3 separate regions of the Homo sapiens genome follow, and regions 2 and 3 are each linked to region 1. A link means that fine-mapping ties the variant in region 1 to the plasma level of a protein whose gene starts in the linked region. Region 1 holds a variant in brackets. A gene starts in each other region. All regions are shown on their forward strands. Region 1 overlaps LINC02068 (long intergenic non-protein coding RNA 2068). Region 2 holds the start of TNFRSF11B (TNF receptor superfamily member 11b). Region 3 holds the start of TNFSF11 (TNF superfamily member 11).

The links. PIP is the posterior inclusion probability: the model's chance that the variant is causal. Protein levels are from antibody-based Olink assays in UK Biobank. Linkage for the fine-mapping came from a reference panel and not from the study's own genotypes, which makes the PIPs less certain.
Region 2: TNFRSF11B starts here. The variant in region 1 is fine-mapped to the plasma level of the TNFRSF11B protein (UK Biobank, PIP above 0.99).
Region 3: it holds the start of TNFSF11, and the variant in region 1 is fine-mapped to the plasma level of the TNFSF11 protein (UK Biobank, PIP above 0.99).

What each region holds. Positions count from the first base shown.
Region 1 is chr3:172,575,416-172,578,175 of GRCh38, forward strand. The region is part of intron 2 of LINC02068 (long intergenic non-protein coding RNA 2068); the gene reads right to left. Among named protein-coding and RNA genes, the nearest start is that of LINC02068, 19 kb to the right of the region's middle. The variant G/A (reference allele first, on the strand shown) is at 1,295.
Region 2 is chr8:118,950,477-118,953,236 of GRCh38, forward strand. TNFRSF11B (TNF receptor superfamily member 11b) reads right to left here and starts at 1,409. Exons shown (of 5, transcript NM_002546.4): 1 at 1,316-1,409. The coding sequence starts at 1,345. It also overlaps a transcript of COLEC10 not described here.
Region 3 is chr13:42,572,473-42,575,232 of GRCh38, forward strand. It overlaps TNFSF11 (TNF superfamily member 11), which reads left to right and starts at 1,680. Exons shown (of 5, transcript NM_003701.4): 1 at 1,680-2,050. The coding sequence starts at 1,832. RefSeq lists a silencer at 1,618-1,987 and an enhancer at 2,078-2,277.

The sequences.
Region 1 (2,760 bases):
TGTGTTGTTCCCTGCCATGTGTCCATGTATTCACATTGTTCAGCTCCTACTTATAAGTGAGTACAGGTGGTGTTTGGCTTTCTGTTCCTGCATTAGTTTGCTGAGAATAACGGTTTCCAGCTCCATTCATGTCCCTGCAAAGGACATGATCCTATTCCTTTTTATGGCTGCATAGTATTCCATGATGTATATGCACCATAGTTTCTTTAACTAGTCTATCATTGATGGGCATTTGTGTTGAATCTATGTCTTTGCTATTGTGAATAGTGTTGCAATAAACATACATGTGCATATATCTTTATAATATTAATAGAATTATTTATATTCCTTTGGGTATATACCCAATAATGGGATTGCTGGGTCAAATGGTATTTTTGCCTCTAGATCTTTGAAGAATCACCACATTTTTCAAAATGGTTGAACGAATTTACACTCCTACCAACAGTGTAAAAGCATTCCTTTTTCTCTGCAACCTTGCCAAATCTGTTGTTTCTTGATTTTTTAATAATCGCCATTCTGACTGGCATGAGATGGTATTTCATTGTCATTTTGCTTTGCATTTCTGTAATGAATCCTGAGATTTTTTTTTTTTTGAGACGGAGTCTCGCTCTGTCACCCAGGCTGGAGTGCAGTGGCACAATCTTGGCTCACTGCAAGCTCTGCCTCCTGGGTTCATGCCATTCTCCTGCCTCAGCCTCCTGAGTTGCTAGGGCTACAGATGCCTGCCACCACGCCTGGCTAATTTTTTGTATTTTTATTAAAGACAGGGTTTCACCGTGTTAGCCAGGATGGTCTCGATCTCCTGACCTCGTGATCCGCCCGCCTCGGCCTGAAGTGGGAGCTGAACAATGCGAACACATGGACACATGGCAGGGAACAACACACACTGGGGCCTGTCAGGGGATGGGGAAGGGAGGGCATCAGGGAGAATAGCTAATGGATGCTGGGCTTAATACCTAGGTGATGGGTTGATCTGTGCAGCAGATCCCAAAGTTCTGGGATTACAGGCATGAGCCACTAGCGCCCAGCCCAAATCCTGAGATCTTAATGTTAAACGATTGGTTCAAGCAATTGAACCGCAAGAGGAATGCTTGTTAGACTGAGTTGATTTTGCTGACTGGTTCTCTGCCCTGAGTGTTCCCACCAACACTTGAAGGGTTCAAAACAGCAGAGGCATTGGTGGGTGCCAGAGAGAAACTACTTGAAAAGGAACCACTTCCACCATTATATCCTGAGCTAACATCTTTGGAGAAGACAGACTAAAGATGGGGCCAAGATTTGGGGCCACCAGTGG[G/A]AACTGAACGCCTGTGCCCTAGTTTGAGAGGCAGGGGAAAAGGGTACTACACAAACTATTATGAGTCTCTTGAACACTGGGGACACTGGGGTCACTGTCATTTCCAGTTGTGGGCAAGAATGACAGGTGACACTGCGAGATTCAAAACTAACACTGTCACATGGAAAGTTGCCATGCACTTAATTGTGGATTCCTCTAGCACCTTTACCATGGCCAGGGATTGTAGTTCCCACTGCTAAATGTACAATACTTATATAAAGTTTGGCCTCCTGTACACAAGGCACCCATCGTGATTCTGGGGTTGCACCCCACCAAATGGTTTCATTTGGATGAGCGTCATGGGATACGTCCTGTTCATGTGTTGTTTTCCTGACCTTCTCTACATCTTCCTCTAGTTCTCTGAGCATCTTTAAGACCGTTGTTTTTATGTCTGGTAGATTCACCAGCCATCAGGTCTTTTCAAGGAAGTTTCTGTTGATTTCTTTTTTTCCTTTGAATGGTCCATGCTTTACTGCTTCTTTGTATACTGATACAGTTTGGCTCTGTGTCTCCACCCAAATCTCATCTTGTAGCTCCCATAATTCCCATGTGTTATGAGAGGGACCCGATGGGAGATGACTGAATCAACAGGGGTGGGTCTTTCCTGTGCTGTTCTTTTGACAGTGAATGGGACTCACAAGATCTCATGGTTTTAAAAACGGGAGTTTCCCTGCACAAGTTATTTTTTTGCCTGCTGCCTTCCACGTAAGATGTGACTTGCTCCACCTTGCCTTCCGCCATGATCGTAAGGCCTCCCCAGCCATTTGGAACTGTAAGTCTAAGAAGCCTCTTTCTTTCGTAAATTGCTGAATCTCAGGTATGTCTTTATCAACAGCATGAAAATGGACCAATACATATACCTTGTGATTTTTTTGTTCAAAACTGAACATTTGGGTCTAGTAATGTGATAACTTTAAAAATCAGATTCTCTCCCTTCCCAGGACTTGCCGAGTTTTGTTTTGGGGTTGGTTTTTGTGGGGTGGTTGTAGGCTATCTGTGTGCTGAGCATTAGCCTGAGGTGCAAACGTAAGGTCTTCTCAAGTGTTTTCTGAGTCTGTACCCCTTTCCCCGGGTTTATGTGGTGACTTAATTTCAAATGTCCTAGTCCTTAATGTCTGACCCTCCAGAAAAGAAAGGAGAAAAATGAAAGTGGGGAAAAAGCACTTGCCTTTCAAATTTCCTGGAAGTCACTAGAGGGTGGGGGAAGTGGGGTCGGTGGGGGAGGGGGGCAACAATAAGAGAACATGCAACAGTGGTTTCCTTTTTCTGTACTTCTATGTTTAGAAGCAACAATTTAGAGCACAGATCCCCAATAATTAGAGTACAGCATTCCTTTGTCCACACTGGGCAAAGCTATGTGTAAGCTACTCCAGGATCATCTGCACAGCTGCCTGCCAAGCCGCTGAGGGTAAGGGATGGCTACAGCT
Region 2 (2,760 bases), not on the chromosome of region 1:
CAGAATACTGATTGTTCTGGCCATAGACACAGTAGTGATGGAAGCTCTTGAGGTGCCGATAATATATTTCTTGATCTGTGTGCTAGCTCACAAGTGCTCACTTAGAAAAACTGCATTAGGCACTTACCACTTGCACAATTCTCTATGTGTTATATTTTAATAAAGGTTTACTTTTTTAAAAGCACTCCATAGTATCTCTAGCGATGAAGTTATACACACACACACATACATACATATATATTTTAACATACTTATGGGTAGATTCCTATCCAACTTACCTGTTCTTTAGTGTCTTTACTATTTATTTACTTATTTATGTTTCTGTATCCTAGGAACTAAGTAGAAGACTACCTAGCCTTCTATTCATTATTTGTGGGTTGGAGGTTGAAGTTCAAACATTTACTCAAACACATCCAAAACACATATGTGGCTTAAATATGGCTTTTCCTAGCCTTGCATAAATGTCTGATTCATATCTTGATGTACTCTACACTCTAGTGTCATAGAGAAAATAAGTCATTGGTCATAGAAAAACCTACATGCAAATCTTATTAACTTGATCAAAACCTAAGCTTAAAAAAAAAGCTAAGTCACAGAGATTCCTTTCTTTTCCAAATAACATTTTAAACACAATTTTTAGCCCTATTTAGTGAACTTCAATTCTTTAGATATGTTTTAGAACATAACATACTGCCAATATTCTCCACAGTATATTGAAGTTGAGAAGTGAAATAATTTTAACAATAAAATTTTATTAAAACATTACACAGTTAAGAAGTGTGTGTGTGAGAGATCTTTTCTCCTAATTATTCAAAATTTCACATAATATTTACATTAGAAAAATCTATCATGTCATATTCTAATTATAATGGTTTTAAGAAGACTAACGTCTTCTTCCAACTTACTCTGAATCTAAGGGACCACTTCTTTGCCACTAATAATAAAAGTTCAAGTTCATTAAGCAAAGATAGTATGGACTACATGAGGGCGTTAATATTCTGAGATGAAGACAGAAGGTTAATGACTAAAACTTTCAAACAAGTTTCTCTCTCTCTCTCTCTCTCCCTCTCTCTCGCTGTCTGTCTCTCTCTTGCTGTCTTCCATAAAGTCAGCAGGAACTTTGCAGCGTAAAAGGACACCCTAGGGGAAGCATGGCATAACTTGAAAGCGGTTTCCTGCTCCAGCCTAACCCCAAGCCTCTCCTGGGAGGGAGCGAGTGGAGCCTTCTCCCCGCCGGTCCGCTGGGAGGTTGGGAGACCAGGTGGCAGCAGCCTCCCCAGGCGCCGGGCACCCGTCGGCTGGCCCAGGGACTTACCACGAGCGCGCAGCACAGCAAGTTGTTCATTGTGGTCCCCGGAAACCTCAGGGGCTTGGAGGCGGCGGCTGGGCGAGCGCTCCGGTGCGTCTCCGCAGCCCGTGCGCTCATCACGTTATATATAGCGTCCCGGCAACAGGAAGTATCGCCTGCCTTTGATCAGTCATTTTTCTATCCTGGACCAAACTTTGCACCTTTCTTTTTTAGGAAGCTTGGGCGGGAGCGGTCGGGGGGTGTGCAGAAAGCTCCAGGGTTAACGCTTTCAGGGCTGGGGCGGAAAGGATCCCCCAGGGAGGTGGGGCGTGAGGGGTGGGGCGGTGGTGTCTGGCCCCTGGGAGAGCAGGGGAAAAAAAAGCCACCGGGCTGAGGAACAAGGCGGCTGCTGTCTCCGCGGGGCTCTGAGGTTTCCCGGCCCCTTCCCGCCAGCGGCCAGCCTCCTGGCAGCCGGGACCAGCGGTGGGAGGGCTGGGCACACGCTGGGCAGCTGCTGTGCTTGTGTCTCCTCCACCCTGAGAGTCCGATCCAGCCAAGATCCGGACGCAGTTGGAGTGTGTCCCAGACCTTTGTCCTCTCGCTGGGCGAAAGCTGTGAGTTTCCGCCGTACCCGGCTGCCTGACCCCTTCACTTCGGGTTCTGAAACCTCAAATTACAGGGCCCCTCTTTATGCATGGCATTGTCTGAGCCCTTTTCGGGGAGTTCGCAATCATTCATCTTCAAGTTTACATAAACCATGTAGTAGGAATTTTTCTAACTAATGTCTGATTGGCCCTAAAGCCCGTGCTATTCTGCATTCACTCCTTGTTATCTGGGGTAGTTAGAGCCAGAGAGAATCTGCAGAGTGAAAATTGGACTGCCTGGGGCAGGGATAACCTTGCGGAGCACTGTTCCCTTCACCAACCCCACCATCATCAAAGGGCTATTGGTATCGGAGCTTCCTACGCGCTGAACTTCTGGAGTAGCCTCCTCGAGGTCTTTCCACTAGCCTCAAGCTATCGACAGAAGTTTGGCACTTTGCTCTAGGGTTCGCTGTCTCCCCCATTAATTCCCTGGTCTAGAAGTTAGACTTGATGACTTGTAAAGTGTGGTCCCATTCATGGATTACAGTTCGCGGGTTGCCACTGAAATTGTTTACAGATGGCTGAAAAAGTCCCTGCAGAGCTGCTTCCCCATCAGGGCCAAGTGTTCAAGTTATATGTCTCCAGAGAAGGGCAAATACTGCCTTTCACCAGATTCAAGGGAAGGAAGGTGAAGAATCAGGAGAGGGGACCCCTGGGGAGCAAGGATGGCTTACCAGGATCAGAGCATCTGCCCCTTCCAAGGGACATCCTTCCACCACGAGTTCAAAGTGGATCCACAGACTGTTCCATCCTGCAAATTACAGAAGACGGGGTGTCATTCAGCTTTGTCCCTCAAGGGCCAGAATGTAACAGCATGCTGGTTTCTTA
Region 3 (2,760 bases), not on the chromosome of region 1:
GGAGAGAATGAGGAAGAAGAGGAGGAGGAGGAGGGGGAGGAGGAGACAATAAACCTACTTCCCAAAGTTAACAAACAAAAAGTGGGAAGAGGTCAAAGACTACAAGGAGTAGAATTAACGTCAATTGTTTCTATGTTTGAGTCTGAAAATTTTTTGTCCCTTCTCCACCAACCTATATATTGATACACATATAAATGCTAAAGGCATTTTTGAATTTGAACAGATCATTTTCTTTGTATGGCTGCCTTTAAAAAAAATTCAACCTGGTCACTCTTCCTCAACATTTACTGAGGTCTAAGTGTTCAATTTAGAACACATGCTTTAATAACTCAGAGACCTGTCATTTGTCACAAATCTTGCCTAGAGAAATACTCATTAGCGAATTAGGCAGAAAGAGGATGCAAAATAAAAAGGCACAGTAGTCCCCTGATATCCATGGAAGACTGGTTCCAGGACACCACCAAACCCCTCCCCGCAAATACCAAAATCCATGGATGTTCAAGTTTCTTAACATATCATGGCATAGTATTTGCATTTAACCTACACACATCCTCTTGTACACTTGAAATTATCTTTAGATTATTTATAATACTTAATAGAATGTAAATGCTATGTAACTAGTTGTGTATCATTTAGGAAATGATCACAAGAAAAAAAGTCTACAGATGTTAGTCCAGACACAGCCATCCTTTTTTTTTTTTTCAAATATTTTTGATCTGTGGTTCATTGCATCCACAGATGTGGAACCCATGGATACTGTGGGCTAACTGTATTAATAAAAAAGTGGAAACATCCTAAGTTTCATGGGTGTTTAAATTGGTCAGCAACTTCCTTCTGAAGAAGTATCAGAATTTGTGAGCAATGTTAATATTTTTGTTTTCTCACTAAGAGCCACAGTTCTGAATAGAGGTTTTTAAAAAGCCCTAGCAAGGTTTCTTTAGCAATGAAACTAACATTTAACTGTATCATCAGCTTCGTGTTACATCTCTTTCCTGACTGTTGGGTGAGCCCTCCTCGGATGCTTGCTTCTGGCTACACGCCCCTTTACCCTTTTCTCTGCACTGTTTTCATCTTTATAAAGTCAGAGTTGGTGTCTATAGGCTCTCTACTGCCACATTCAAGACCTGCCTCGCTCAATGTCACCTTCAAGATGCAGAAATAGGGATTTGGGAAGGGGATTGTGAAATTTTCGAAGTCTTCCAAAATACTTTGAGAAACTATATTTGGAAGCACTTTGGGGGGAGAGGTTGGACAGGAAGGGTCTTCAGAGATCATCAAATTTAACTTTCTAAATCCTAAGGAGGAAACCGAGACTCCAGGATGTGAAGTCCCTTCTCTACCAAACTAGAATGGATGCAGGAGGAATGTCTGAGGTGCAATCCTTATCCTTTAGCAAAGGTGTCCTCTGCGTCTTCTTTAACCCATCTCTTGGACCTCCAGAAAGACAGCTGAGGATGGCAAGGGGAGTCTGGAACCACTGGAGTAGCCCCCAGCCTCCTCCTTGGAGGGCCCCCATGAAGGAGGCCCTTCAGTGACAGAGATTGAGAGAGAGGGAGGGCGAAAGGAAGGAAGGGGAGCCAGAGGTGGGAGTGGAAGAGGCAGCCTCGCCTGGGGCTGATTGGCTCCCGAGGCCAGGGCTCTCCAAGCGGTTTATAAGAGTTGGGGCTGCCGGGCGCCCTGCCCGCTCGCCCGCGCGCCCCAGGACCCAAAGCCGGGCTCCAAGTCGGCGCCCCACGTCGAGGCTCCGCCGCAGCCTCCGGAGTTGGCCGCAGACAAGAAGGGGAGGGAGCGGGAGAGGGAGGAGAGCTCCGAAGCGAGAGGGCCGAGCGCCATGCGCCGCGCCAGCAGAGACTACACCAAGTACCTGCGTGGCTCGGAGGAGATGGGCGGCGGCCCCGGAGCCCCGCACGAGGGCCCCCTGCACGCCCCGCCGCCGCCTGCGCCGCACCAGCCCCCTGCCGCCTCCCGCTCCATGTTCGTGGCCCTCCTGGGGCTGGGGCTGGGCCAGGTTGTCTGCAGCGTCGCCCTGTTCTTCTATTTCAGAGCGCAGGTGAGTGGCCACCTTCCCAGGGGATCGCGGCTGAGAGCGCCCATCTCCTTCCCCCGCACTTGGAAACTGAGTCTGGCGGCAGGGCTGGGCCACCCAGAGCTTGCATATTCCGGAAGGGAAAGTGACTCCAGAAGGGAGAGAGGAAGTGTTGAGTTTGGGGACAACCTGGCGCAGGGCTGTCGGGCGCACCCTGCTCTCTCTCCGCCCACGCACCCCAGCTTCTCGGTGCTCTGGGGGCGGACTCCCCTGGCCGGACGATGGGTTTGAATCTCACCCCGTCCCTTCGCTGGGAAACAACACTGGCCTCTCACCTTTTCTGGTAGTGATTGCATACTTTTTCTCCCTGTCATTTCTCACTTGAAGTTAAGAATCAACTTCTGTTCACGTAGGAAAAAAGATGAGCGCCTTCACTTGGGCATCTACCTTTCCCTTCCCGCCCACCACCCGGCGGGTTTCGGTTCCTGCGCCTGGCTGCTCTGCAGGTGTGCTGGGGCCACGGTGCTGGAGGGCTGCGCGGAGCGGGAGGTCGCGGTGCTCGTGCCCAGGTCGCCCAATGGGTGGGCAGAATGACACGGCGCGACCAGAGAGGCGCGGGCTCGGGATGGGGGCTCTGCGGCTGTGGCGCTGTCCTGTGGGGGTGAAGGAAGAGGGACAGCCCCACGTGCCTGCTAGGGATGTGGGCGGAGGAAGGAAGCGAGGTGAGTGTGATG